Homo sapiens: one gene and its partners. The protein of the gene in region 2 interacts with the protein of the main gene of each other region in a biochemical or structural test. Each region holds a gene or a part of one and is shown on either strand. Other genes may lie near its edges. The genes, in order: STRN, TNKS2, USP25 and CACNA1S.

What was found.
Region 1: the proteins of TNKS2 (region 2) and STRN interact in a biophysical measurement, tested with the Homo sapiens proteins (one study listed by IntAct).
Region 3: the proteins of TNKS2 (region 2) and USP25 interact in a biophysical measurement, tested with the Homo sapiens proteins (one study listed by IntAct).
Region 4: the proteins of TNKS2 (region 2) and CACNA1S interact in a biophysical measurement, tested with the Homo sapiens proteins (one study listed by IntAct).

Annotation. Positions count from the first base shown.
Region 1 is NC_000002.12:36,851,518-36,858,543, reverse strand, and holds part of STRN (striatin), read left to right. Parts: intron 1-520; coding exon 521-688; intron 689-3,191; coding exon 3,192-3,332; intron 3,333-7,026. UniProt on the Homo sapiens protein: Calmodulin-binding scaffolding protein which is the center of the striatin-interacting phosphatase and kinase (STRIPAK) complexes.
Region 2 is NC_000010.11:91,801,420-91,808,445, forward strand, and holds part of TNKS2 (poly [ADP-ribose] polymerase tankyrase-2), read left to right. Parts: intron 1-7,026. UniProt on the Homo sapiens protein: Poly-ADP-ribosyltransferase involved in various processes such as Wnt signaling pathway, telomere length and vesicle trafficking.
Region 3 is NC_000021.9:15,725,225-15,733,004, reverse strand, and holds the start of USP25 (ubiquitin carboxyl-terminal hydrolase 25), read right to left. Parts: upstream 3,024-7,780; 5' UTR 2,612-3,023; coding exon 2,567-2,611; exon of another isoform or gene 2,317-2,566; intron 2,003-2,316; exon of another isoform or gene 1-2,002. UniProt on the Homo sapiens protein: Deubiquitinating enzyme that hydrolyzes ubiquitin moieties conjugated to substrates and thus, functions in various biological processes including inflammation and immune response.
Region 4 is NC_000001.11:201,102,404-201,109,429, reverse strand, and holds part of CACNA1S (voltage-dependent L-type calcium channel subunit alpha-1S), read left to right. Parts: intron 1-7,026. UniProt on the Homo sapiens protein: Pore-forming, alpha-1S subunit of the voltage-gated calcium channel that gives rise to L-type calcium currents in skeletal muscle.

The DNA of each region.
Region 1 (7,026 bases), on a different chromosome or scaffold from region 2:
ATTTGGGGATTCCTGTAGATGTCACTTCCTGTCCATTATGAATGCCATATTTTCAGGAAAAACTGCCATCCATCATATAGTAAGATAAGTGAACAGAAGGAAGTATAGCCAAAGTGCTAAGGGACTTCAGAGAGGGAGAGGACCTCTCTGTTCACTTCCTCAGGGAGTGTGAGTTGTGGTTTCTCCAAAGATGAATTAAATTCAAATGATTTCGTATCAACGTGCTTTAAAAATATTTAGACAAATGGAAGGACAAAAGGAAGGGGGAGGAAATACTCAGTTTTTTTAAGGGGGAAAAATACGTGCTTTTAAATTTTAATTTAAAATTTTTTAACTTTATATTTGTATATTTCCAAGCTTGTTTTGATTTACTGTAGCCTGTCAGAAGAATAATAGAAACCAAGAATCATATTTTATACTGTTATCAGGTGCTATTGTTTATATATTTTACTTTCTCTGAAATCTAAGTACCTTTGTGGTTGTTTTTCTCCTGATTTTGCATTTTTACTGTTTTGTATAGATCCTTCTGTTTTACGAGGCCCTCTGCTAGGCCACACGGATGCAGTCTGGGGTTTGGCTTATAGTGCAGCACATCAGCGTTTGTTGTCCTGTTCAGCAGATGGCACTCTGCGTTTATGGAATACAACTGAGGTTGCTCCAGCACTAAGTGTATTTAATGATACTAAAGGTACATACTTTAAAAAATTATTTTGCTGAATCCTCTATAAAACAGTTTATTCTGAAAATAAGCAAGCAGATAAATGATTCCCTGAACTCTTTAAATTTAATTTGAAAGTTTTTGAAGCCACGAAAGTGTATTTGTTTGAATTTCCAACCTATATATAATTTTGTTTTGTTTTGTTTTGTTTTGTTTTGTTTTTTTTGAGACGGAGTATCACTCTGTTGCCCAGGCTGGAGTGCAGTGGCGCAATCTCGGCTCACTGCAACCTCCATCTCCCAGTTTCAAGCAATTCTCCTGCCTCAGCCTCCAGCACACACCACCACGCTCAGCTAATTTTTGTAGTTTTTTTAGTAGAGACAGGGTTTTGCTGTGTTGGCCAGGCTGGTCTGGAACTCCTGACCTCAAGTGATTCGCCTGCCTCAGCCTCCCGAAGTGCTGGGATTACAGGCATGAGCCACTGCACCCAGCCTATAATTTTTGAAAGCATAGTTTTTGGTGAAAGAACACACAGATTTTAGATTTTAAAAAATTAAGATATAATTTGTATGTAGTGAAAAACAGATATTAAGGATACATTTCAGTGAGTCTGATAGATGAGTACACCCATGTAACTCATACATCAATCAAGACATAGAATCCAGGTGTGGTGGCTCACACCTGTAATCCTAGCACTTTGGGAGGCTGAGGCAGGAGGATCACGAGAGGCCAGGAATTTGGGACCAGCTGGGCAACATAGCGAGGCCCTGTCTCTACATTTTCTTTAAAAAAAAAAAAGACTATATTTGCCCATTCTCGTACCACTATAAAGAAATACCTGAGACTGGGTAATTTGTTTAAAAAAAAAAAAGGTTTAATTGGTTGACGGTTCTGTACAGGAAGCATAGCAACTTTTCTTTGGCTTCTGGGGAGGCCTCAAGCAATTTACAATCATGGTGGAAGTCAAAGGGACAGGAGGCATGTTTTACATGGCCGGAGCAGGAGGAAGAAGGGGGTGGGACCTATTTTTAAACAACCAAATCTTGTGAGAACTCTATCACGAGAATAGCACCAAAGGGGAAAATCCACCCCATGATCCAATCACCTCCCGCCAGGCCGTATCTCCAATATTGGGGATTATGTTTGACATGAGACTTGAGTGAGGACACAGATCCAAACCGTATGAGAGATAGAACATTTCCTTTATCTCCCCAAAGTTCCTTCGTGTCTTTCCAAGTCAGTCCCCTCCTTTCCTTATTCCCAGCCAGAGGTACCCACTGTTGTGATTTCTTTCATCATAGATTAGTTTTATCTACTCAAACGTCATGTAAATGGAATAGTAAAGTATGTGTTCTTTGTATCTTGCTTTTATTCTTCATTATAATGTTTTGGAAATTCATTTGTGTTATATCAATTATTTCTTTCATTTTTATTTGATAGTATTTCATTAAGCCATAATTTGTCTATTCATTTATATCTTGATGGATATTTGGGTTGTCTCTAGTTTTTTGCTATTTTGAACAAGGCTGCTATGAACATTCATATATTTTCATTATAGGTGTGTAGAGACTTAGAATTGCTGGGCTTTCAGGTGGATGTTTATTTTACTTTATGTGAAGTCACTAAAAATTTTTCAAAAAAATTTTGTAGTTGTACCATTTTACACCTTTGACAGCAGTGTATGAGCATTCCAGTTGCTCTGCATCCTTACAAACATACAGTATTGTCAGTCTGTTTAACTTTAGCCATTCTGGTGGATGTGTAGTAGTATTTCATCATAGTTTATTTGCATTTCTTTGATGGCTAATTTTGATGAGCATTTCTTTTGTTTGCTTATTGGTTATTTGTGTATCTTCTTCTGCAGTATGCACATTTTTGAACTGTTACCTTGCTGTAGTTAGATTTTGAGCCAAATGAAAAAAATCAGATTATTATATTCACTTTATATGTTTCCTTCTATTTTTATGTTTATAAATAAGCTCTAAGTTTTCATGTATTCTAGATGGTAAATAAAAATACCTTCTGTATTCTTGAGCTATTATAACTTCTTTCCAGGCTTTGATGAGTTGTCTTCATATGGTATTTGCATGACTCTAACGATAAATAATAATTTTAAATTTTACTTTTTAATTTCTCTATTTTTGATGAGCTAACATCCCTAATAAGAGATGGGTTTTTTAAAATGAAGAATTCCCACTATGTCACTCTAAGCTTGAGGTTGGGCGGAAGCAGCAAAATTTGTAATTCATACATGTTTTCCATTTGCTCTCTAAATAAAGGCTTGCATTCCATGAATATATCAGTTGAGTAACAGGTAGAAGATCTGCTAAGCAGGTAAGGGAAATAAATAGACTAGGGCTAAAAGTTACAAAGAAATAATCTCCAATGAATAGTTATGAGCTAATTCTTATTCTAATGGTAAGCCTTGTTTACTTCTTAAGGAAACCATGCCATTTTTTGTTTTGCTCTATTTTAAGCAGATTGTCAAGTAGATGGTTTAATTGCCATTCTATTTCAATATGTTCTCTTTCAGAACTGGGAATCCCTGCCTCTGTGGATCTAGTGAGCAGTGACCCGAGCCATATGGTAGCATCATTCAGCAAGGGATATACAAGCATTTTTAACATGGAAACACAACAACGCATTCTCACTTTAGAATCCAATGTAGATACAAGTATGCATACCAATTTTAAATTGTCTGTGTTTATTTTTTTAACTTAATCAAAATTACGACTACTAGAGTCAGCTGTGAAAAATATTTGTCATTATAAAGCTTTCTGTCTCTTAACTTTCAGAACACAGTTACTTAGAAGGTTGTAATTATTTACCTTTTAAGAATTTGGGTTAAGTTTATGTACATTTATAACTATACTGTTTGAAATAGCATTTGAGCTGTTATGGGTCAAGTTTTATTTTATACTAAATGATTAATTTTCAATTCTATTTGAAGAAAGCCATATTTATTCTGAATAGGAAATTCTATTTTTCATTTCTCGTAATTTCATATTTTAAATCAACTTAATTTTATATTAATAGTATGATTTGGTACAGCTCAATACAGATCATGTTGTGGCACTCAGAATTCCAAACCTGAAGCTTCTTATTGGATGCAGGAAGTCAGGAAATAAGTGCTTTTTCAGGTTATGAAGAAGATATTACAGACTCTTTTTTGGTTTTTGGCTTTCTTAACCATTGCTTTCTGTCGTTAGCCATAATCTAGACAATCACAGTTTAGGTTGCAGTTGATGAAGAATACGACATACATATACTCTTGTTTTAATCTGAGAACTAGCTTTAAAAGTGATGATATGTTGTGTGTGTGCACATGCATGTGTGAACATGTACATGCATATGTTTACATATGTTCTTGTGGTGTTCTCACTCTCTGTCTCTCTCTCTCTCAAAAAGTTTCTTTATTCCTTTGTGGTTTTCATCATTTTCCCTTCCTAACCTGTTGTTCATTGTTTTCTTCTGATATGCTGAGACTTGTTTGGGGAAGTAAGCATGAATAGAACTTTGAGCTACTTGGATGTAAACGAGAGAGACAGGAAAATAAATTAAACTCAGGTGATAGAATTGGAAAAGGAGAATTTTTTTCAGCAAGAAATTACAGGTTTTAGACTCTCAATAAATTTAAAATCATGTTTAAATATATGACTCAAAGCTACAGTAGCAAAATAAAAAACTAATATGAAATTAGAAAGGATGAGAACATTTTTGTAATTACCTTCAGAGATTATATGGCCAATTTGTGAACATCCTGAGTGGAAATAGTGCTTTTTAATGACTGCAGGTTAATAAGATGTCAAGTCTGGTAGATAAGATGGATAAAGAGAACTAGGCGAGTGAATCCACATTTTCCCCCAAGAGATGTGACTCTAAATTAATAGGACTTTTTACTTGACACTGGAAACATTTTGAGAAAACTTCCAAGAATGTTTTTAACAAAGGCAACATTACTGGAATAAATGATCATTATTTTGAGTTGTAATATGTCCTGACATTTTCTAAATTATGTTTTTTACTTTTAAAGTTGTATAAAGAAAACTTAAATTAGTCTCTTATTATGTTTTACTGTGAACTACCCCTTGTTATTTATAATTGATTGTGTTGTTCTGTTTTGGAATTTAGCATATTTTTTTAAAAAAATGAAAGGACCAAACAAGCTTCAAGGAGAAAGTGAGTTTTATATAGAGTTTAAAGTGATGAAGGATGTTTGTTAGAATAGGAATAAATTACCCTTCTTCTCATTGATGTCAATGGCGATTTGACTGTGGTAAAGTCAAAGGTAGTTGAAGCAGATACGTCACAAGCTAGGTATGAGTAGTGTTCTTTGCATTCTGCCGACTTCTCTGATTTATCATCAAGTGGAGAAGCTTCCTTAAAAGTGTTACCAAATAAGAACTTTCTTTTGCCTGTTTCCATGATTTGATTTCAATCATATTTATTTTCTAGCTCTCAAAGCAATTGAGGCTATTCTCTGAAACGTCTCTCTCAGAATATATGGGATATTTCACTTAAAGTATTTCTTTTTTTGTTGTTACTGTTATTCTCTTGCTGGACTTTACCACGGGTGTTGCTCAATGGAGTATTATCTGTGGAGGAAATAATGCGTAGTCTGAATTTTATAAATAAACATCTCTTTGTTTAGGATCTAAACCAGGTGTAACTGACTAAGAACTTACTCCACATGGTCAAGTGAGTTTTTGTTTTATATTTATTTTTTTTTGAGACAGAGTCTCGCTCTGTTGCCCAGGCTGGAGTGCAGTGGTGCGATCTCAGCTTACTGCAACCTCCACCTCCTGGGCTCAAGCGATTCTCCTGCCTCAGCCTCCCAAGTAGCTGGGACCACAGGCGTGTGCCACCATATCTGGTTCATTTTTGTATTTTGCGTAGAGACAGAGTTTCACCATGTTGGCCAGGCTGGTCTCGAACTCCTGACCTCAAGTGATCCGCCTGCCTCGGCCTCCTAAAGTGCTGCGATTACAGGTGTGAGCTACCGTGCCCAGCCACATTTTATATTTAAATAACAGGCTGGGTAATTACCTGCCACTAGCATTGGGAAAAGACTGTCTTCAGTTTTTAAGATGTTATATTTCTAGGAGCCACATGAAAATCCTGTAAGATTAGACTATTTTTAGCTGTATTTTCTATTATGTGAATATAAACTTGTAATACCTATTCTAGGGTTCAAAAAATTTTTTAAACTCTATTTTGAAATAATTTTAAACTTGCAGAAAAGGTACAAAAATAGTACGAGAACTTCTGGCTACCCTTCACACATATTTAGCAGTTTTTAACATTTTGTCACATTTGCTTTTTCACTCTATATATGTGTATAATTTTTAATTCTGAACCATATGAGAGACGTCATGCTCCTATTCCCCTAGATCCTTTAGCGTGTAATTCTAAGATCAAGGGCATTCTCTGATGTAGTGTATTACAATGATCAAAATCCGGAAACTTAACATTGACACAATACTATTATCTGAATTACTATTTATATTCAAATTTTGAGAGTTGTTCCAGTAATATATTTTACAAGGACACCCCTTCCTCTCCCTGGACCATAATTTAATTTTTAAAACTTTGACATACCTTCAATTAGTGTTTTCTTTATGTCAGTTTTTCTTTTCTCTTAAAAAAAGCTTAACAGAAATCACTGAGGTTTTAAATTACTGATTTCTTTTTAATAAAAGCCTTTCAGGAAGAATGTGTGATCATTTAGGAACCAATTTTGACAGTTGTGTGATCTGCATGAACCATCAGGTTGGGAGAGAGTCAGAAGTTAGAATAGGTACTGATTTTGTCACCTGATTGTGGAGGAGTCACAACTTTTTCTGAACCTTGATGTGTTCACTGTAATATAGGCTTAATGATATGTGCTTGCCTGTCTCATTGTGTGTATAATTGAAGTTTCTTTGGAACTTACTAACACAAAAAATACAGTTAGGATGCTGACTTTTAGGATTCCAAACCTAGTTCTGTCAAATGACCATTTCTATTATGATGAGGAAGAGTGATAAAGGGATTTAAGGATTAAGAAGCCCTCTTTGTCATATATATCTTTAGATGATAATGATGTGATACAGAACTTTGTATGCAAAAAGAGCTGAGATTTAAATTTGAGAATTATCTCCATGTAAGTGATGATAGAACTTACTTAAAGTAGCAAAATCTCACAGAACATTGTAGAATGAACAGCGTTAGTGGCTCTAGACTAAGCCATAGATGGCACCCACATATAGCAGGAAATTGTAATTTATAAATATTTCCAGATTTATCAGGCAATTCTCTTTCCTAACATTGAAATTTTGAAAACAGTCACAGAATAAATGAACTAAAGACAAATAATGAAAGTCACATTA
Region 2 (7,026 bases):
TTTCAGTCCGCCTGCCACTGCCCCCGACCATACGCAGATATACACAAGACAGGAATTTTTCTTTTTTTTTTTGAGATGGAGTCTAGTTCTGTCTCCCAGGCTGGAGTGCAGCGTCACGATCTCAGCTCACTGCAACCCCCACCTTCCGGGTTCGACCGATTCTCCTGTCTCAGCCTCCTAAGTAGCTGGGATTACAGGTGCGCACTGCCACGCCCGGCAAATTTTTGTATTTTTAGTAGAGACAGGGTTTCAACATGTTGGTCAGGCTGGTCTCAAACTCCTGATCTCGTGATCCGCCTGCCTCGGCCTCCCAAAGTGCTGGGATTACAGGCGTGAGCCACTGCGCCCGGCCAGGAATGATTTTTTTCCAACACAACAGAATTTGTAGAGGCAAGTTGGTGGTAGGGTGGCTGTTGCTCTAATTTTACTAAAAGCAAAAGTATCTGAAATTCTTGACAGTTAATGCCCTAGAAAACAGCAAATTTCAGTAAAGAAGACTCTGCTTCTGTGAACTTATTTCTAAAAAGTAAAGAAGAGGTGACACAAACTTGGGGAGAAAGTTATCTTGATGCCCATCATAGAAATGAAAGAAATATGTGGCATTCCTTACAATCTTAGAACTCTTGGAGTAGGGGTAGGAGCTTGCATTGTAGAGTCCTAGCTAAACAAGGTAACACTTATTTTATATTTATAGTATGTTATGTTACTGTTAGTATGAGTATGCTACTGAACCACATACATAGGACCAGTTAGACCGGACTTGGATTATTATATTCAATTGTGTGAATCAAATATAAGAGGGGATTTTTTTATTCAGAGGAGGAAAGTGGAATCAGAGCATCCAGAATTTATTGCACAAGCATAGATACGAAAATTAGTGCTGCTTATTCTAGAGATGAAAGAAGACTATACCATGTTATCGTCTTCACATATGTGGAAGAATCACAAAGAGTGAGTGGATATTACTTGTGTGGCTTTGGGAGTCAAAACTAAGGCCAGCAGGTGGAAGGTTACAAGGGGTCAGACAACCTTTAACAATATTCAGCGATCGAACTGTCTGGAAGTATCCAAGCAGTGGCTGGATTGGCATTTTTCAGAGATGTTGTAGAGAGGATTTCAGCCTAGTTCGACCAACAGGTTATAATCTCACTAGTACAAGAAAGTGGGATGATTCCTCCAATTGAAGGCTTTAGCTGCTCAGCTACCAAAGATATACTAGCTTTTGTGATTGCCATTCATATCTTTTCCCAAAATGATAACCATTGGAGACCTCCAATAACCTCTCAGTAACATTTTCTTCTTTGGCTGTAGGCCAACATCATAGTTACAAGAGATGCACAAAATTTATCCAACACTCTTCACCTAGAACTACAGTTATAGATTGTTGTTTTCAGGATTGGTTTTTGCTATGGGAGATAAATCATACATCAGCAGGAAACCCTAGTGTCAAATAAAGATCAGTCTATTTAGGAATTCATCATCTTTCTTGACTTATCAAATCTCCCAATGTATTATCAAGACTTTGAGCTATACCTTTGCCCTCAGCGCTTGCTGGATTTGGAGGTAGACAGTTGACTTCAATAACAAGAGTTTGGAGTACTCCTTTCAGTGTACCCCCATTCAGATGGTCAAAATTTCATCACCGTAGAGGCCATGGCGTTCTTTTCCAAGTTTCTACTAATCTGGCCAGACAGTATGTCTATCCCAAGTTGAGATGGGCAAAGTCCTCTCCCTTGTATTCTTCGTTCTTAAGAAGTATATGTGGGAAATAATTTTCTGGATCTTAGCAAACTAAAGTTAATAGTAAATGAGGCCCGGGCACAGTGCCACAGGCTATAATCCCAGCACTCTGGGAGGCAAAGGCAGGAGTATCACCTGAACTCAAGAGTTCAAGACCAGCCTGGGCAACAATGGTGACACCTCATCTCTACAAGAAAATAGAAAAATGAGCCGGGCATGGTGGCACAGAACTGACACTCTGGGAGGCAAAGACAGGAGTATCACTTGAGCTTAAGAGTTCAAGAGCAGCCTGGGCAACATGGCGAAACCCCATCTCTACAAAAAAATAGAAAAAGTAGCCAGGCATGGTGGTGCAGGCCTGTAGTCCTAGCTACTTGGGAGGCTAAGGTTAGAGGATTACTTGAGCCAAGGCTGCAGTGAGCCGAGATTGCGCCATTGCACTCTAGGCTGGGCAACAGAGGGAAACCTTGTAACACAAAATAGTAAATGAGAAGTTTAAAATGACATTCCTCAGAAAAAATGTGTCACTGAGAGTCCTGGCTAAAGGTTGCTTGAAAGCTGAAGGCTGTTTGATTATACCTTCCAATCTCCCAGACTACAGGAGCTTTGTTTTGTGGCATTTGTTGACATTTTTCCAGAACTTTGCCTTTGGACAAAACCCTGTGTGATAGCCTACCTTTAGATATTGCAAGACATCACCATCTCATATGGGACCAATTGTGTTATCAGTGATTAATCCCACCTTTGGACTATGAAAGACAGGAGGGGGATAGCATTTAGTTAAACTTCCTAAGAGTCTAAGTTGGTTTCTCTGTAGGAACTTGACTGCCTCACAGCTTTTGGGAAACCATTCAGATGAAAGCATGTTTCCAGTGTAGCAGCAAAATGTGATATTATTAACAATAGTCATAGTTAGCAAGCAGTACCTGGAGTTGCTGAAACTGATGGCATCTAGATAAGTAATAAATTTGACAAGAGGCTGCTTTTCTCTGTTTTCACAAATCATTAACACCATATTCTTTGTGAGGATCCTTTCCTATTCCAGCAGAGTATTAGACATGCATTAAACAAATGTTTGTCAAGTCCTGCTATATGCCAGACACTGACCTTGTCCCTGAGTAAACTGAAATGAACAGGACACAATACCTGCCATTAACTGACACATGGTTAATGTGGTCAACAAGTATACTTTACAGATAGGCCTGCTTTGCTTCACTGTAAGTACTATATAGTAGATTCATACTCTGTGTATGGTTTCATCAGAATTTTCACAAGTAGAACAGTGTTTGAAGTTGAGTGCTGTTCCATAATTACAAAATAAACTACAGTGTGTCCTGAGCAGCCATGACTACCAACTTTATTTAGGCTTCTGGTTCCTCATAAAGAGATCCTTAGAATATGGAGATTTACATTGACTCTGATGATATGCCTATTCATGTTCTACCTGGCCAGTGAGAACATGATCAGAATATACCCTGCAGAGCATTTTTTCTTCCAGAAATTGGTGCTTAACAGAAGTACTTTGAACTATTCTTGAGACCATAACAATAGAGATTTTATCAAGGATTACTCCTCAGTTTGGGAAGTATGGTTTTTTGGGGGTTGTGGGGGTGAGGCACAGAGTTTCACTCTTGTCGCCCAGGCTGGAGTGCAGTGGTGCGATCTTGGCTCACTTCAACCTCCACCTCCCAGGTTCAAGCAATTCTCCTGCCTCCTGCTTCAGCCTCCCGAGTAGCTGGGATTACAGGTATGTACCACCACGCCTGGCTAATTTTTATATTTTTAGTAGAAACAGGGTTTCACCATGTTGGCTATGGTGGTCTCGAATTCCTGACCTCAGGTGATCCACCCACCTCTGTCTCCCAAAGTGCTGGGATTACAGGTGTGAGCCACAGTGCCCAGCCAGGAAGTATCTTCAATCTAAAGATTTCGCCAAACTCCAAGCAACTTTTTTTTTTTTTTTTAAACATAGCTACCTATTGACTGCCTCCAAATAATTTCCTTTAAGTGCCCAAGATGTGGCTTCAAACATTAAAATCTCAGACTATTAATCTACTGTCTCAGCATAGCAGATTACATTCACTCACATATTGTAGTCCTTACAGTGTGACTGTAAAATCATACCTCTACTATCAGTCACCAGACTGGTTTCAGACATCTTAATGACTAGGGAATCATGTTGATACAGACATTGACACAGAAGTCTGTGTCTTGGAATGTTGGTAACTATGTGGATATAATCACTTTACCCATTCTACCCATATCGATCGCCTCAGCTAAAACTTCAGTTTCAGTTATGTCTTTCTCTTTAACTCTGATTTCATGCAACCCTCTTCTCTTTCCAGCCTTATTTTGACAGAAGGCTACTACTTGACCTTCCTTTAGATCACCAATCCTTTGGGACAGATATCTTCCCAGTTGACACTGTCTCTCATAACAGCTAGTTATTTTACTCCAGCTATTTCTGTGCACATCTAACTCTCCTTTCTGGGGGAGTTAACCTGTGAGTCACCATTTTGATTACTTCAGATATGCTTATTACTGCTGAAGAATAGTAATCCTTATTCTAAAATGCTTGGGTACATCAAATAACTTTATAGAGGTAGCTTTACAGGTTTTTCTTTATTTTGATTCTTTTTCTCTTACTCTCCAATTTAAGAAGCCTTTTTCTAAAAGCACTTCCTGCAGGTGGGTGCTAAGTGGTTGGGATAGCAGAACCATAGATTAGGGCAACTGTAGATAACCTACTTGGGGAGGACAGTGTGATCAGCAATGCCCAGGAAGTGATCAGGAAGGAAGGCTGAAGTCAGGGCTAATGACAGCAAGAGCTGACCTTCCCCTCTGACATTTTCCTACTTGGCTTCTGCAATGCCATTCTTTCTCTTTTTTTTTTTTTTTTTTTTATATTTTATCTAATATTTTATTTACTGATCTCTCTGAAACATGCCAAAATTCATATAGCTAAGGGAACTTACCATGCTAAAATGTTGTTCAACATGACAAATTTATACAAAACATATTTCAATGTAGTGCCTTCATTTCATTCTTGAGGAATCAACATTACATTTAGGTGGTGAAATTTAGGATACAAATATAATTATCAAATATCGTACTTCTAGTTTACTGGAAAACATAACAGTTGTGACAGTAACACCTAACACCTTGGTTAATTAAAGACAGAAAATGGGCAGGGGTGTCACAGAAGTATGCAAGGATTTGACAGTTCAAACTAATCCATAGCCCTTCTGAGAAACTACAGATGGAAAATATGTAGTAAATATTTCTGTAATATGGTGGTTTCAGTACATTATAGCACAGTGATCATCATTCCATTCATACACTCAAATAAATGCTGCTTCTGATCACTGAAAACTAGATTCAAAGTCATTGCTCAACAAGCTGATACTACAAATCCCTTATATTAACAGGTACTTTAAATGTGGAAATAAGGCAAAGCATACTTGTTAGTCACAATTACTTTTAGATATAATTGAGACTACACTGCTATACATAATTAGGTACACAGTATGTATAACAATGCATACTATGGTGTGGGGTTAATTCCAATTACCATATTTTATATTTATTGGTCACAACAGCATACATTTTATGCTCCAAAATACATGGATCTGACAAAATGGTTACATTTAATGTTCTTTTAAGGAAAGATGAACTAAATTTAAGAAGAATTGGTTTTTCCTAATATCTCATTTTCAAATTACTGATACAAATTTGCCAGAGAAACAATTACATGTTTTACCTAACATCAAATAATCTCCAGTTTCTAAGACAGATGCATTTCTTGTTCAGTTTCCAAAAGTAAATAAAGGCTTTCTAACTGAAAACATTTGCATCCCTAGCTCTCTAAAGTAAACATTAAAAAGAAAATTACAAAAAATGACCTCTAAGCTTCTGAACAGTCCACTTAGTTACATAAAGTACTTTCTGTCCCAACACTTTCTCTAATTCAAAAGATATTTACTTCCTAAGTACACGACAAAGTCTTCATTTCAAACCATTCACTCAGTTTCCATGGTAACATTGCGGGCTTCCTTGGCTACCATAAGTCGCATTAGTTGACTGTGGAATTTCTCAATCTTCTTTACATCTTGAGCTTGGTCTGTTTTATACACCAAACAAACTAAATCATCTGTTACTTTAACACACAAGTTCCCATCAGAATGCCTATATTTGAGAACCACACGTGCCTTCATAGGGTCAGCGAGGTAAAGCTTCTCGGCAGCGCGGCTGAACTCCTCCCAGGTCTGGTACTGCGGCATCGTGGCCTAGAGTGGAAAAGTAAAGAGAAGCAAGGCCTCAGAACCCGGCCCAACAAACTACCTACGTCCGGGAGTCGCCAACCGACGCGAGTCCTGCAATGCCATTCTTTCTTAGCTTTACTTCTCAGACTCCTTTTCATATACTGTGATACCTTAATTCAGCAAATGTCAACAAATTGCTCTGTACCATGTACTCTAAAGGATGCTGGGGAAGTAGTGATGAATTAAGATGCACATGGCTCTTGTCCTTCATGGAACTAAGAGTCTAGAAAATGCCGGGCGCAGTGGCTCATGCCTGTAATCCCAGCACTTCGGGAGGCCGAGGCGAGCGGCTCACGAGGTCAGGAGATCGAGACCATCCTGGCTAACATGGTGAAACCCCCCCTTTACTAAAAATACAAAAAAAATTAGCCAGGCGTGGTGGCGGGCACCTGTAGCCCCAGCTACTCTGGAGGCTGAAGCAGGAGAATGGCATGAACCCGGGAGGCAGAGCTTGCAGTGAGCTGAGATTGGGCCACTGCACTTCAGCCTGGGGGACAGAGCGAGACTCTGTCTCAAAAAAAAAAAAAAAAAGAGTCTAGAAAATAAGGCAGTAATTACAAATTTTAATAAGTGACAAATACTGCTATGAACAGCAAAGACAAAAATCCCTGTTGTATGGAGCTTGCATTCTAGTGAAGGAGGTGGGAGATAGACCAACTAAATGGTGTGAAGATAGGAAAAAATGTGGATGGGCAGAAGGGACTATTTTAGATGGGATGGTCAGGGATAGCCTTCTTAAGGAGGTGACATTTAAACAAACCAGGTAATGAGTAGAAGTGAGGATGCTTTGTGCAAGGGAAGAGCATTCCAAGCAGAAGGGTGGCATGTACCAAGTCGCTGACATACTTGACAAACTGAAAGTATATTATAGTTGGGAAAGGGAAGAATCGTGTGAAATGAAATTAGAGAAGAAGTTGAGGGCCAGTTCATGAAGGAGCTTTTAAGGCCATAGTAGAGTGTTTGA
Region 3 (7,780 bases), on a different chromosome or scaffold from region 2:
GAATTTAACTCATCTGCTGCCAACTGCACCTCACCTGAAATACCTAAACCTCAGAAAAGCAGCTTTCTGCAGTTTTACTACATCTCATAAGTCCCTGGGTTGGCCAAACTCCAGCAATCAAGCAAAGAACACATCAAAAGGGAAAGGCAGCCTCTTGCCTCATCATACTACATTGTGACAAAGACTAATGAATTCTATAGGCGAACCAAAAAATCATGAAAGTTTTGTGTAGTGTGGTGCTGCAAACAACAAAAAAACTTACATCCATCTGCAAAATAAAAGTTTTAAAAATCTTGAAAATAATATAGCTAAATAGTAAATACTTAAATTTTAAATAGTAAATACTTAAAATTTAAAAACACATATGTACACACAGTTTTTTAAGGTGAGAAGAAAACTGGCTAAAATGTTGGCTATGCAATATACACTACACACCTCTCCTTTTAGATAACCCATAAAGTGTCTGAGTAAAAACAGACTTTCACTTTTGTTTCTTCTAAGTGTGAAGTTCACTTCCTAGTTACCAGCTTTAAGTCCGCTTCCTGGTTACTAGCTTGACGGATTTAAATCTGTCAACTTATCGAGGTAGATGGTTTACTTGTATCCATATAAATATTTTTAAATAGTTCTAATATGAGTAACAAAGTAATCGTGTATTAATACGGAAAGCAAACACATTTAAGTGTTTCTTCTGTAAAACAATCTAAATATTATGGAAGTATAAAAGTTTCTCTAAAAAAAATCCCCAATAACAATGAAATGATCTAAAACACAGCCATACTAAAAGTAGCATCATAATGATAATATTTTGAATTAACTACTACTCCCTTTGTGTGTGGAGGGGATTCATTAAAGTAGGAAATTGGACTCGACAGCCAAGATCACTTTCGTTAACTTGATTCTTGATTCTACAATTTTATGCATAACCTCTGAACCATACAATAGAGCCTGCATAGTTATTTAATACAGTTTAGTCAAAATCAAATGAAAATAAAAAAATCCTAAACTTACAAAGTTCTTCCCATTGTTCAAACTTAGGAAGTGAAAAATTGGTATTTCTCACTTTGAAACAGACTTTAATATTCAACACTGAAGACAATTATAAACAAATGGTACCATACATATTAAATATTGCTTAGCGTTCACATGACCATGTGCTCTTTCCTAAGCCTTAAGTCTTTAAAAATTGAACTTGAAGGTATTCAAAATAGAATAGGGAGGATTAGGAAGGAAACTCTTTTAAATTCTCATTATTAAATCTTGAATTATTTCACTGTAAATAAAGTGCAGTGTGCAATATCCTTCTAACTTTACCAATAATATCAACTAACATACAAGTCTCAAAAACAACTTTCCCAACGTGCCTAAAATAACAATGCACTATCCTTGCTTTCCAAACTTGAGTATCTTCGATTACTTTAAAGCAGTATCATAAAATTCTAAAAATAATCTCAAAGCAAAAATTTAGCAGGCTGTATGTAGACAGCCCATTTTAGAACAGGTCTTATTCTAAAGTCAAGCACAGGTAGAATATTGCAATCTACACCAAATCTACAACAGGGTGGGGCATTCATTACTCACCCAGATAAACCAAACATAACTCTGGTGGTTGATCACAGTAAACCCTAACTGTCCCCGTAATACCAACACAACTAAGGCACGGTTTACTCTTTTGCCCAAAATGCTTTTCACGCAAATTAAAAATTAAAAAAAGAAGTTAAATCATGGCCAACTACTCTTCAGAACATGGTGCAAGCCATGATAGTGCACTTAAGATTCTGAAAGCAAAATCTAAAATAGCAGAATGATCTCTATTCACTTTAAAGATATAAAGTTTCACAAACAGTTTTTTAATTGTTTTCTTTAGTGAGTGACCATTTGAATGTGTGACTGATGCAAGAGTAAAGGGTGAACGAAAGAACAAGGTCAAACTTAGGGGACAAAAGATTCCTGGAATAACATGGCCAGAAAGGTTTCCTCTCTTAGGGACAGTTTCTATATTGAAAAAAAAAAAAAAAAAAAAAAAAACAGAAAAGAAGAAGAAGAAAGGGAAACCTTAAAAGGAAAAGAAACCAAGCAAACCACCTACTTCTAGAGTCCACCTGGTCAACACGCCTGCCCCGCGAGGCAGGTAATTCGATTTTGGTGGAGACCGTTTTGCAAAATAGCAGGCCTGGTACACTACTACCTTTGAAAGACAAAATCGGTTCAGAAAGGATGACAACTAGCTATTCTTTCTCATTTAAGGGGAGAGAATAAAGTTTCATTAAGATGCCACACAGAGCACTGTAGGAATGTGAGGGTCGCTCTCAATACCTGGCACCGTCTGCTACGGGAAAACAATCGGCAGAAGGAAGTGGATTGAAGCCCGCAAACTACACTCTGCTTCCCACACGCAGCTGGGCTCTGGGCGCGACGCCCCCGAGGCGATGGGCAGGGGCCGGGGGTGACCGGGGAGGAAGCCCGGGAAGGCGGCGGCGGCGAGGCCGGGGCGCCCGGCCGCAGCGGGAGAGGACAGCCCGTCGGAAGGAGAAGTGGGGCCCGCCGGCTGGCGGACTCGCCTCACCTTCTGCGCCGCGCTCTGCTGCAGCACGTTCTGCTCCACGGTCATGGCCCCCGCGGCGGCGGCGGCGGCGGCGGCGGTGGCGCCCGGCTCCTCGCGCCTCCGCCGGCCCTGGCTGCCGCGCTCCGCCGAGCTCCAGGGAGCGGCGCGGACGGCCTGGGAGGACAGCGCCCCCGCCAGCCAGGCGCGAAGGCGATGGCGGCCGGCGTGCGCGGGCACCGCGGGCAGGCGGCGAAACGCCGACTGTGAGGGCCACGGCGGCCGCCTCACGTCTCCACGCGGCCCGCCTCAGCGCCGCTCGTCCGCGGCGGCCCGGGCCATGAGCGGGCGGAGGACGCCGGGGCACGGGAGAGCGCGAGCCAGTCGGGCGGCGTCACGCGTTCGCACGTTCCTTTGCTGCCGGTCCGCGGGCTGCTTTGGGGAAGGGAGAGAGGGGACGGAGGGAGCGGCCGCCCGGAATGGCGTTGTCCTCCTCCCTCCGCGAGTCCTCCTCCCTCCCCTCCCCCACGCGCCATCCCCGCCCCCGCCCGGCGGCTCCTCCCCCGCAGAGCCCCGCCCGCCGGCCGCCCTAACCCTACATTGTGACCCTCCGGGCGGCGGGGCGGGGCCGCCATGGAGCCCCGCCCCTCCCTGCGCGGGCCTGGCGTTCCCGGGTGGGGCGAGGGCGCGCCTGGCTGCCTGGCCCGGGAGCCGCCCCTGCGGCAGGTTGCGCGACGCTGGCGCTGGGCTTCGGGGAGCGCGACTGGAGGCCGGAGGGCAGCGTTCCTCCCTGCGCCCAGGGCTTGTCGGATCCCTAGCTTACCCAAAGCCTCCAAAGCAAACATTTCCCTCCATGCCCATAACGTCCCAAAACTGCGTAGGGTCCCGAACTCCGGCCCCTTTCTGTGTCACGCGTTCTCTCCCCTCGCCTTTCTAGGAATTTCACAAGCCTTGAACTTGCCTGAAGGGAAAAGTCAAATAAGCAAAGGGTTGCCAGAAATCTTTATGCTGGGAAGTACTTTTCTCCTTAACTAATCATTACGTAAATGAATATAGACATTTTCTATCTACCTTCATTCATTCGAATATGTGTCAGTCACTGCTAGGCTCTGGAAAAATAAAGTTTATCTTCCCAAGACTTAATATAAATGAAATAGGATCTATCTAGCAAACAACCTTACAAAAATATCACTGCCTAATGATACATAATTCTAATATCCCAGTTGCCAAATTAAGCAAACAATTAACTACCATGCATGGAATGCTTGACTATATATGGAATTGTAAGGAAAATCTAACATTAAGAAAGCAATCTCTAGCCACAAAAATATCTCGAGTTCCAGGAGCTAATCTGGGAACGGAGGTGAGAGTGCAGCAGTGTGAGGAGAGAAATTATCAATGCATATTGTCACAAATAGAATACACTTGAAAATCCGGGTATAATTTTTAATCCAATGACAAGGAAAGCAAGCTTGGCAAATGCTAATTGAAATAGTATGTGGTGTTATTTAATAATCATGGATTATAGTAGCTCTTAAGGCTTTGTAACAGTTCTGTGCACTTTACAACCATCTTTGTTCTGCAGCTCAGATGTCTGGTACCACCTGTTGTCACCTTTTCCTTGAAGCTTCATATTTGTTGACTCATTTGATATTTAACAAATTGCAAATCTTATTATATTAATATCCTATGTCTTTTCTAGAGGAAATGAAAAGTCATGAAACGGTTGGAAACAGAAATTTAGAAATACTGTCACATCTCTAATCTCACGTATCGATTTTTTTATAACTCTGAAGCCCAAGGAGGGTGACCTGTCAAAGAGAGCTTATCAAAACCCATTTTTCTTCATTTATAGATCAAAGTTTCTTCTTTTCTTGTTTATATGCTAACTTCATGTTTCTCCATATGAGGGTTTTGGTTTTTTGGTTTGTTTGTTTGTTTTTTAGAAATCAAGCTCATACATTTGAATTCAAGAAAATTAAATTTAACATAAAAATCTAGTAATCTAGTACCATGGGAGGAAAAATGTTGCCAGATACTAAGGTTTAATTTCAAGAATTTGGCAATACAACTTTTCTCTGAGTTAAATTTGTTACTTCCATACAGAAAAAAAAAGATGATCTTACAATAGATAATCATCAAATAGAGCTTTTATATGGTAGACCTATTTGCCCACTGAGACTGTTCATTTTCAGCTTACTTCTGAGGGTTTCCTACTTACTCAGCATTTCTTTAAATATTTTTAACTGTTGTACTGAAGAACATTGAGAAGAAAATTTCAAGTTTCCTCATAGGCATTCCTTTTTAGAAGGCTTACAATTGGGATGAATAATTAGAGAAATTTGAGCAATTGAGATAAATTGGCACACAAAACCCATCGCTGGGATTTCCTAACTCATTTTTTAAATTTGCGCCGTGACAATTGTGTTGTATGAGTCAGCTTTAATATGCATGTGTGTCGGAATTATATATCCTCAAGATATTATTTAATAACTTCTAAACTGCTACATTACTCTATGTTGTTGACATTCAGGTAAAAATGTTAAGTGACATATTTCATATAATATGAAATATTTTGTGTGTAACAATGCTGTGGTTTGAATGTATCCCCCCAAAAACGGTGTGATGGAAACTTAATCCCCAATGCAACAGTGTGGAGGTGGGCCCTAATAAGAGGTGATTCAGTTATGAGAGCTCTGACCTCATGAATTAATTAATGGTGCTATCACAAATGTGCAGTCCCTATCAAAAGGACAGTTTCCTTATAAAAGGACGAGTTTGGCTCCTTCTTGCCTCTTTCCCTTTTCCTTTCCTTCCCTCTCTCTCTTTCTCCCCTTCTCTTAGCTCTTCCACCATGCAATGATACAGGAGGAAGGCCTTCACCAAATGACGGCCCATCCATCTTGACCTTCCCTGCCTCCAGAACTGTGAGCCAACAAATTTCTGATCATTATCAATTACCCATTCATAGGTATTATGTTGTAGCAGCATAAAATAGACAAAGACAAACTGCAAGACTATTTTTCTGTTTTGGGTCAAAACGTTATTTCTAGCAATACTCAGTATTGTATTTTATATGTCAACTAAGAAAATTGGTATTCTTCCGCCTTAGGTATCTTTAGAAAGGGGTTAAAAATCCATTTCCGGATACCAAAAGTTTACCATATTGCCAAAACACATTTGTAGGACTTTTCTTTGTTTCCCCCCTAGCTGGTGTTGAGCTCCTGGTCTCAAGGGATCCTCCTGCCTCAGCCTCTGAAGTAGCTACCTGGATTACAGGCATGTCAGCAAAGAATTGTTGAATCCATGGAGCAGATTTAGACAATTTCCATTACAAAAGAGTGGTTTTAAATCTACTGCAATGAGGATCTGAATTATTTTCCTCCTTTAGGAGTGTTGGCATTCTGGGATAATTTTATTTCCACCAATAAGAAAACAATAAGCAGGCTGGGCACGGTGGCTCCCCTCTGTAATCCCAGCACTTTGGGAGGCCAAGGTGGGCGGATCACCTCAGGTCAGGGGTTCAAGCCCAGCCTGGCCAACATGGCAAAACACTGTCTCCACTAAAAAATACAAAAATTAGCCGGATGTGGTGGCAGGCACCTGTAATCCCAGCTACTCGGAGCCTGAGGCAGGGAGAATTGCTTGAACCTAGGAGTCGGATGTTGCAGTGAGCCGAGATGTGCCATTGCACTCCAGCCAGGGTGACAGAGCAAGACTCCATGTAAAAGAGCAAAAAGAAAACAATAAGCAATCATTTAAAGAGGAGTCTTCTATGATGTCATAATGGTACTATTTAGCAATCAGGTGTTCATAGATTACAACCTGCAAGAGTACTGCCTGCCTAATACATGCACAATAAAATGCTTATTGAATTAAGTGGGCAGCCATGAAGGGGAGAAAACAAATGTATTTGTGCTTTTGTGGTGCACATCTAACTCTAACTTCTCATTCCAAGTGGATAGCTTTGTGGTCCTGGCAGCCCAGCCATATTATTCTATATGACAAAATGTGTCATTATTAGTTTCTCCAGCCCTCAATAGTGCCTCACATTTTGAGGGATTCTAGATGTTGCTTCTTTGGTATTGTATTAGTTGTCTGTTCTGCCATAACAAAATGCCACAGATTGGGTGTCTTAAAAATACAGAAATGTATTTTTTCACAGCTCTGGACACTGGGAATTCAAGATTAAGGTGCCAGCAGGGTTGATTTCTCCTGCACCCTCTCTGTTTGCCTTGCAGATGGCCACCCTCTCACTGCCTCTTTCCATGGTCCGTGTGTGCCCACAGTATCTCTTCATCTTCTGCTGAGGACATAAATCATACTTGATTTCAGCCGCACCCAGATGGCATCATTTTAACTTAATAACCCCTTTAAAGACTTTGTTTTCAAATACAGTTACATTCTGAAGTGCTAGGGGTTAGGACTTTTTAGAGAGGTTATGAATTTTAGAGAGACAAAATTCAGCCCGTAACAGTCATATTCAATCTGCTTTACTTAATCCTATGCTTCATACTTTTGTGCCGTCAAATATATTTTTTCATGCCCCATCCTGTAACTTCGTAGATTGGTAAGAGATGCATTAGCACTTTAAAGGCTAGTACCTGCACACATTTTCTGCCAGTATTGGCACTTCCAATTAGAATCATTTTGGGGGAAACAAGTTTTGTGCATTGAAAAGCAATCTAGTCTAATGTGCTTTGCAAGGTCCACCTAGAAAGTAAGGACTATGGAGAAACAGCTAGAATTTATCAACGGAGAGCCAGTGCAAAAGTGTGTTATTTCTTGCCTGCATCACTTGCTTTCACTTACCTTGAACAGGCCCGAAGTTATACTTGCACACTGAAAATGGCTTGGAGGCCTCAGACCTTTTCTCATCACTTTTTAGTCCATTCACCTATACTCAAAAGACAAAGTCTCTCCCACCATATTGGTGGGCACACATTTCCCTGAAATTATCCTATGATATATATGGGCAGAGAAAACCACATGTCAGAATGTGACTAATGTCACTTTCCAAGACCTATCTCCCATGTTCAGCGCACATGATCCCTGAAGAACAACCCAGGGACTTCTAGCTCTGTGATCGTGGGCAAGTTACTTAAGCCTTAGTTCCTATTTGCTACGAGATTGATTCCTTGAGCGTCTATTGTTCTGCTGTAAATCACAGAGAGGACTATCCCTGCATGTTTCACGCTCGTAAGTCAGATGGGTTTGAAACAGATTTGGCTAACAGGC
Region 4 (7,026 bases), on a different chromosome or scaffold from region 2:
GTATTATTTAATCCCTATAACTACTCCTGTGGGGTAAGTAACATTATTAGACCCATTTAAAAGACAAAGGAGACTGATATTCAGAGAGTTTAGGCACATTACCCAGGGTCACCCACATCTATATCTTGTGGTAGGGCCTCCAGCTTGGTCTCTCTGATTTTAGAACCTCTTTTTTTTTTTTTTTTTGAGACAGAGTCTCACTCTGTTGCCCAGGCTGTGTGATCTCGGCTCTCGGCTCACTGCAACCTCCGCCTCCTGGGTTCAAGTGATGCTCCTGCCTCAGCCTCCCAAGTAGCTGGGATTACAGGCGCCTGCCACCATGCCCAGATAATTTTCATATTTTTAGTTGAGATGGGGTTTCGCCATGTTGGCCAGGCTGGCCTCGAACTCCTGACCTCAGGTGATCCACCAGTCTCAGCCTTCCAAAGTGCTGTGATTATAGGTGTGAGCCACCACACCTAGCCAGAACCTGCTCTTGTACAGGCTGTGTTGCCAAGGTGATGGGTGACGGCAGAAAGACTTCTAGGGGAAGCCCTCTTATAAACAGTGGCCTCAGGCTCCCTAGGGGACAGAACAATGGAACCACCTTTTCAACAGGGCTTTTTTCCTGCACTGAAACTGCAGGGCCTGGGAGGGAGGAGGCATATTTGCATGTGTCCAGGGCCTGACACATCTCTGCCTTTCCTTTATGCTGGTTTCCATGGGAATCTATCTTGAGCTGATGGGAAGCTGGGATTCTAAATGTGTGCTTGCTATGAGGGGAAAACACTCTGAGCTCCTGAGTGTGGAAGGAGAGTGGGATTAAATGTTGGCAGGGCCAATGCCACCTTTGCCGGCAAGGAAGGCATTTCTTAAACTCTGGGCATTCTACACCATAGGGTTAGTCTCCATGTCCCTGAATGCAGGGAGAGCTCTAGGTCTACCCCACCCTTCAGGATTTCATATTTTTGGGCCTCAGTTCCCTGTGACATTGACTACTTTTGTAAAAAAACTCTGCCCCACCTTGGAGGATATTAAATTTTACCTCTGCTGGATGCAGTGACTCATGCCTGTAATCCCAGCACTTTGAGAGGCTGAGACGTGAAGAAATCTTGCATCCAATAGTTCAAGACCAGCCTGGGCAACATAGAGAGACTCCCGTCTCTACAAAAATTGAATTAGCGGGGCCTGGTGGTGCATGCCTCTTGTTCCATCTACTCGGGAGGCTGAAGTGGGAGGATTGCTTGAGCCTGGGAGGTCGAGGCTGCAGTGAGCCAAGATCATGCCACTGCACTCCAGCCCGAGTGACACAGTGAGACCCTGTCTCAAAAAAAAAAAAAAAAAATTACATCTTAATGGTTATGTCATCTTCCATCCTGAAACAAAATTGGCTCCCTTAACTGTTTCACGTGGTCCTGTGTATGTTTTTCTTTAGTTTGTGGGCTGGAGTTGCAAAACCTTGGGTTAGGCCTAGAGTTCATAGAGACAGTATTATGAGTTCCCTGCAAGTCGGAAACCTAATCAGAAATGTTTCCAAAGCAGCAAATGCCACCTGGCATGTCAGAGCTCTATGGGAAATGAATGCTCAGTGAGGACTCCTAACCTGACCCCTTAATTGTGAAGCCCAGAGAAAGTCGGTGATACCCAAGGTCGCTCAGCCACCTTCGAGCTCAGGGGTCCTCACTGTTCATGTCCACAAAACCCAGCAAGAGGGAGATGAGAGGAGTCAGAGTAGAAAAGGGCAGTAGGCACTCTCTCTCTTGCCCTATTGGCTGCTTTGTAGGTAGCAGAGAAGGGTTGGGGTCTTTCCAGTCATCCAGAATAACCCGTAGCTTTCAAGAAAGGAGGCCTAAGGTTTAATTATTCATGACCTTTCTCATTCATTTAACGAATGCATCTTTAGTGTCTATCACATCCCTGGCACATACTGGGGATATCACTGTGAACCAAATAGACACATTTCCCATCTTCACAGAGCTTCATTACATGGATTAAACAAGTAAATATAATAAAACCAATTAAACAGGTAGTTAAAATGAAATGGGAAAGGTTCAAGATTTGGGGATATTATGGTAGCATATTGACAGAGAACCTAAGCTAGTCTTGAGATCAGGAAGGCTTCCCCAAGTATGGGATGTTTAACCTGAGACCTAAAGGTTGAGGACAGGGACAGCTCACACAAGTGCCACCTATGCAGTCCCAGAGGACTCCCACTCAGAAGGGCCCCACATTTGGGGTTGAATGCTCTGTGGTCAAAGTATTGAGATTTTAATTAATTTTATCTTTGAATTTATGATTTGTAAGTGAAGTCCATTGGGACAATGGCACATGCACCTCAAGCTTGGAACCTTGGCTCACAAAAGGTCCTGACTTCTGCCATCTCCCTGCCTCTAAGGAGGGGCTCTCAGCTTGATGTTTTGCCCTCTGGGGTCCTGGGCCACTTGGCAGAGGCCTGAGTGGGAGAATGGGAAGGGCCGTGTCTCAGGGAAGGACATGGCTCTGGTTGTCTCTACCCTGGGCTGACATTGCTGCAGTCCATTCAGTAAATGACCTATGAGGTTGAGCCTCCAAGGCCCTCCCCGATTCTGGGTACTTACTGTTTCCCAGGAAGCAGAGATTGCAACACCCTTGGGTGCCGGATGTCCACTATGGGTTGAGGTGGTGGGTCTGAGTGAAGGGGAGATGCCTGGCTCCACACCTCCACCTCTGGCCAGGGCACAGGATGTCGGGCTGTGGGATGGTGAGGGTGGAGGGGGAAGATTAGGAGGAGGCGCTTGTGGCAATCTGCACTTGCCCTGCACAACACTGAACAGCAATCAAAAGACACCACAGTAGGCTGAGAAAGGGGCTGAAAGAAAGGGAAAAGCTTTATATTTAGTACCTTCATCAGCACTCATTTCCTACTGTTTGAACGTGGGGGCCCACATTTTCACTTGTACTGGGCCCCCCATTATGTAGCCTGGCTGTGAAGGAGCGCATTGTAGAAGGCCAAGCGGGAGAGGGGATTCTGGGCAGAGGAAGCCACGTGGGCAAAGGGCTGGAGGCAAGAGACAGAGAGGTCAGGGGGGGATTTAGAAAAATCTCTCAGGCCCCATGTGGAGCATGGATTGGGGTGACGTGGGGTGAGATGGGAAGCAGGGAAGGGGGCAGGGAGCCCAGGGAAGTCATCCAGGCAGGAAACAGGGGAGGCTGGGCCAAGGCACTGGTGATGGTAAAGATGGCTGTGAGGTGGCCTTAAGAAAGACCTGCCAGGTGGAATCCATGGTGAGGACTGGAGGTGGGGATGGAGGTGTGGGGGAGGGGGAGGATGACACTTGGGGGTCAGAAGTGGACAGAGCAGATGGCAGTATCACTTACCAAGACTGCAGATGGGGGTAGGGAGGAGGAAGGTGGTGAGTTCAACTTCAGATGTGTGGTGATACAGGTGCCTGTGTCCACTGATGGGTAATTGGATTTGCAGGTCCAAGCATTTTATGACAGAGGTTTCCTCACTTTGGCACATGCCAAACTGGCTGGGTGGGGCAGGGGCGGGGATGGTTGTGGGCAAGAAGGGCTTCCCTCAGTTGCCGTGTGTGCGAGCAGGGCCGGGGGTGTGACTGCTGTCTGTGGGAATAGGCTCCCTTGGCAGTGTCCCTCCATATCCCTTCTGCCAGCACTGGCTGAGGGTAATAGACTTGGGGCCCGGGTTTCCTGGGGCTAGAGGTACACCTCTGACTCTGCCTGCTCTGTGTCTGTGGGAAATCCCAGGATCTTCCCTGAATAGAAGAGGAAACTGAGGCCCAGAGAGAGCAAGGAGTCCTGGGAATGAATATGCAGCTGATCAGAGGGTGGCAAGAGGAGGATCCAGGATGCTGACATCCTGGCCAACTGTGGGATGTCACAGTGGCACGGGCCTCTGAAATCAGCCCATTATGGCATGGTGGTTATAAAAATGGGTTCTGGAGCTAGAATCTGCTTTTGAGCCCAGGCCCACTCACCTACTAGCTGTGTGATCTTAGACAAGTTATGTAACCTTTCTGTTCCCTCAGTTTCCTCCTTTATAAAATGGGGATGATATTGTATACTTGAGAGAGGTAACTGGATGAGTGAAGACCTTCTAAGTTGTAGTGCTTTATCTATCAACAGAAGGAACTTTGATCATGCAGGCCCCACAGAGCAGGCTCACCAGCCAAAAAGCCTATAGTCACAGAGACCCCCAGGTTGTTCTAGATTCAAAGGGTCTAACCCCCAACAGTTATGCCAAAGGATTATTTCAGGTAAAGAATTCCTCTTCACCCTGCCCATCGTTTGTCCCTGATTTCTCTTTAACTCTGTGTCTTCTCTCCTTGAAACCCCTAACTTTTCTTAATGGCTTTCCTGATCACCCCTCCCCAGTCCTCCAGCAAATCAGCAGCAGCAGCAGCAACAATGACATTCAATATTTATCGATTACTTGCATATTGTCAGTCACTGTTCTAATGCCTTATATGTGTTATCACACTGAATGCCCATGAGGCAGGTACTTTTATTTTTCTCATTTGTACAGAGGAGTAAACCACAGCGCAGAGAGGTTAGATCACTGCACATGCCCAGGTGGCTCTGTGGGCAGGCCTACATCCTTTATTGGGCAGGGTTACCATTCCAGCCTAGGCCAGGCTGAGGGGACCAATGTGGAAAAGCAAAAACAATTATCAGACTTCCTAATTGTTGGGCAGACATGATAAACTGATTGCTTTTGCTACATTATCTCATTTCACCCTCAAAGCAATCCTATGTCAAAGTATGATGTTCAAAAAGTGAAAACACAACTGTGAGTAAAATATCCAAGGAACACATATCAAAGATTAGTTCAACTCAAAAGAGAACAAGCAGGCGTGTGAAGCTGAGTTAAAGGGAATTAGAGCAGCAGAAGTTATGACACCGGAGAGAGAATGATGGAATAGGATTGCTAGGTTAGATACCAAGCTGGTTAATGTCCTACAGGGCAATAAAACTCTAACCATTGGGGTTATCTTCCTATCAGGCAGAATTCATTTGCATCTCTAGAGGACAGAATAGTGAGAGCTAAACAAAGTTACATTCCCTCCTAGGTCAGTGGTTTTCAAGGGATTGGGGAGGGGAAGTAGTTCTGCCCCAGAGGACATTTGGCAACAACTGGAATTGTGAGGGGGAGGGGCAGGGGCGGAGATGTGTCCTACTAGCATCTAGTGGGGTAGAGGCAGGGGCCCTGCAATGCACAGGACAGCCCCCTCCCACCAACAAAGAAGTATCCAGACCAAAATATCATTAGGGCTGAGGTTGAGAAACCCTGACCTGGATAATTAGATAATCCTTGGCCAGGCCTGTTATAAAATGCTCCAACATGATATTACAAAGATATGGCATCCTTTCTTTGCTTTATTTCCAAGTTCTGGATAATTTAGATTTTTCTTAAGTAGATGGTGCCTGCTCTCCTCGAGGGCAGGGCAGGGCAGGGCAGGGCCTGGCAAGCTCTGCAAGATGGCTGCCCATTTGGCCCCTCCTGGGCTGCAGGGTGGCTTCCCACCCCTCAGGCATCAGCAGGCTCCACCAGGCCCCTGTCGCATTCCTGGGGTTCAAGTTGCTGCAGCGTCCTCCACGAGGCTGGAGCCTAAGCCTCTGGCAGCCAGGGCGTTTGTCTTTTTATAGGGTCTGGAATGCGCTCGCCAACTCTTGTGGCCAGCAGCCCATTCCCCTCGCCATCTGGGGAGGCTGGGGCCTCAGAAGGACCGCAGCTCTGGCCTCACCCCTTAGAGATCCAGGACCTGCAGAGCACAGGGTGGTTTGAGCCTGGGCCACTGTACAGAGAAGTGATGGTGCTCCAAAAGGGTCTGTGGAAATGAATGAAAGCCTGGATTTTAGACCCACCTGGGAGCCTGCCCTCCCACCACTGCAAGAACTCAGGTCCCCTTTCAGGGCACTTAGATTCTCCCCCGCCCATCCCAACCCATGCCCCTTCACACCAGGCACAGGGGCTGCAGACACTGTAATAGCTGAACAACAGAAGCCTTGGAGGAAAGCCTTGGAGGAAAGCCTTTGCCCAAGCTTTGCTAGCTCCCTGGGGAGTCGCAGGAAAGGACGGCCTCTCAAGTCAAACCAACCTGCCTCCAATCTAGACTGGTTGGCAGCTTCCTAAACTCTCTGAACCTCCATTACCTCATCTGTGAACAGAGGACCACAATATCTTTCTTTCTTTTTTTTTTTTTTTTGAGACCAAGTCTCCTCTGTCACCCAGACTGGAGTGCAGTGGCACGACTTCACCTCACTACAACCTCCACTTCCCAGGTTCAAGCAATTCTCCTGTCTCAGCCTCCCGCATAGCTGGAACTACAGGCACACGTCACCACACCTGGCTAATTTTTTTTTGTTTTTAGTAGAGACAGGGTTTCACCATGTTGGTCAGGCTGGTCCACAATATCTTTCTTTTCAGGACTGTTATATCCATGAGTGCAACAACCTCGTGTCTGACCTGGCACACAAGAGTTGCTCAATAAATGTTCATTCCCTTCCTTCTCTGACCTCCCAGCACTAACAGCCCACAGCTGAAGTCACACTGAACCCAAGCCTCGGGGGGCAAAGACAGACCTGGGGTGGATTGAGGGCGGGATCTGACAAATGTACCCAGGTGTCCCAGGCATACTGTATCTTTCTCTCCCCTCTGCCTGGCATAGTGGTTGAGACCATGGAGTCTGGAATCAAACTGTCTATACATATCATGGCTCTGCCTCTTGGTAGCTATGTGATCCTGGAGAAATTAATCCCTCTGTGCTTTGGCTTCCTCATCTGTAAAATGGGATAAGAGTACCTACCTTAGTCGGCTGTCGTCCGAAGCTAGGGAGGATGATGATGGACTGCTCCGCACAGACTGGGATGCGTGTTGGGTATGGGTATGACTGTATGTCCACTCTCAGTGGGAGCTGGGCAACACGGAGGAGTTGGTGGTCCTGTTGCTTGCTGATGGAAATATGTCGGGCCTTCCTTTTCAACTGGTTCCTCTATTGGGCCCAAGGGTTGGGAGTAGGAGACAGTATCCGAGGCTGACGAGGGCCT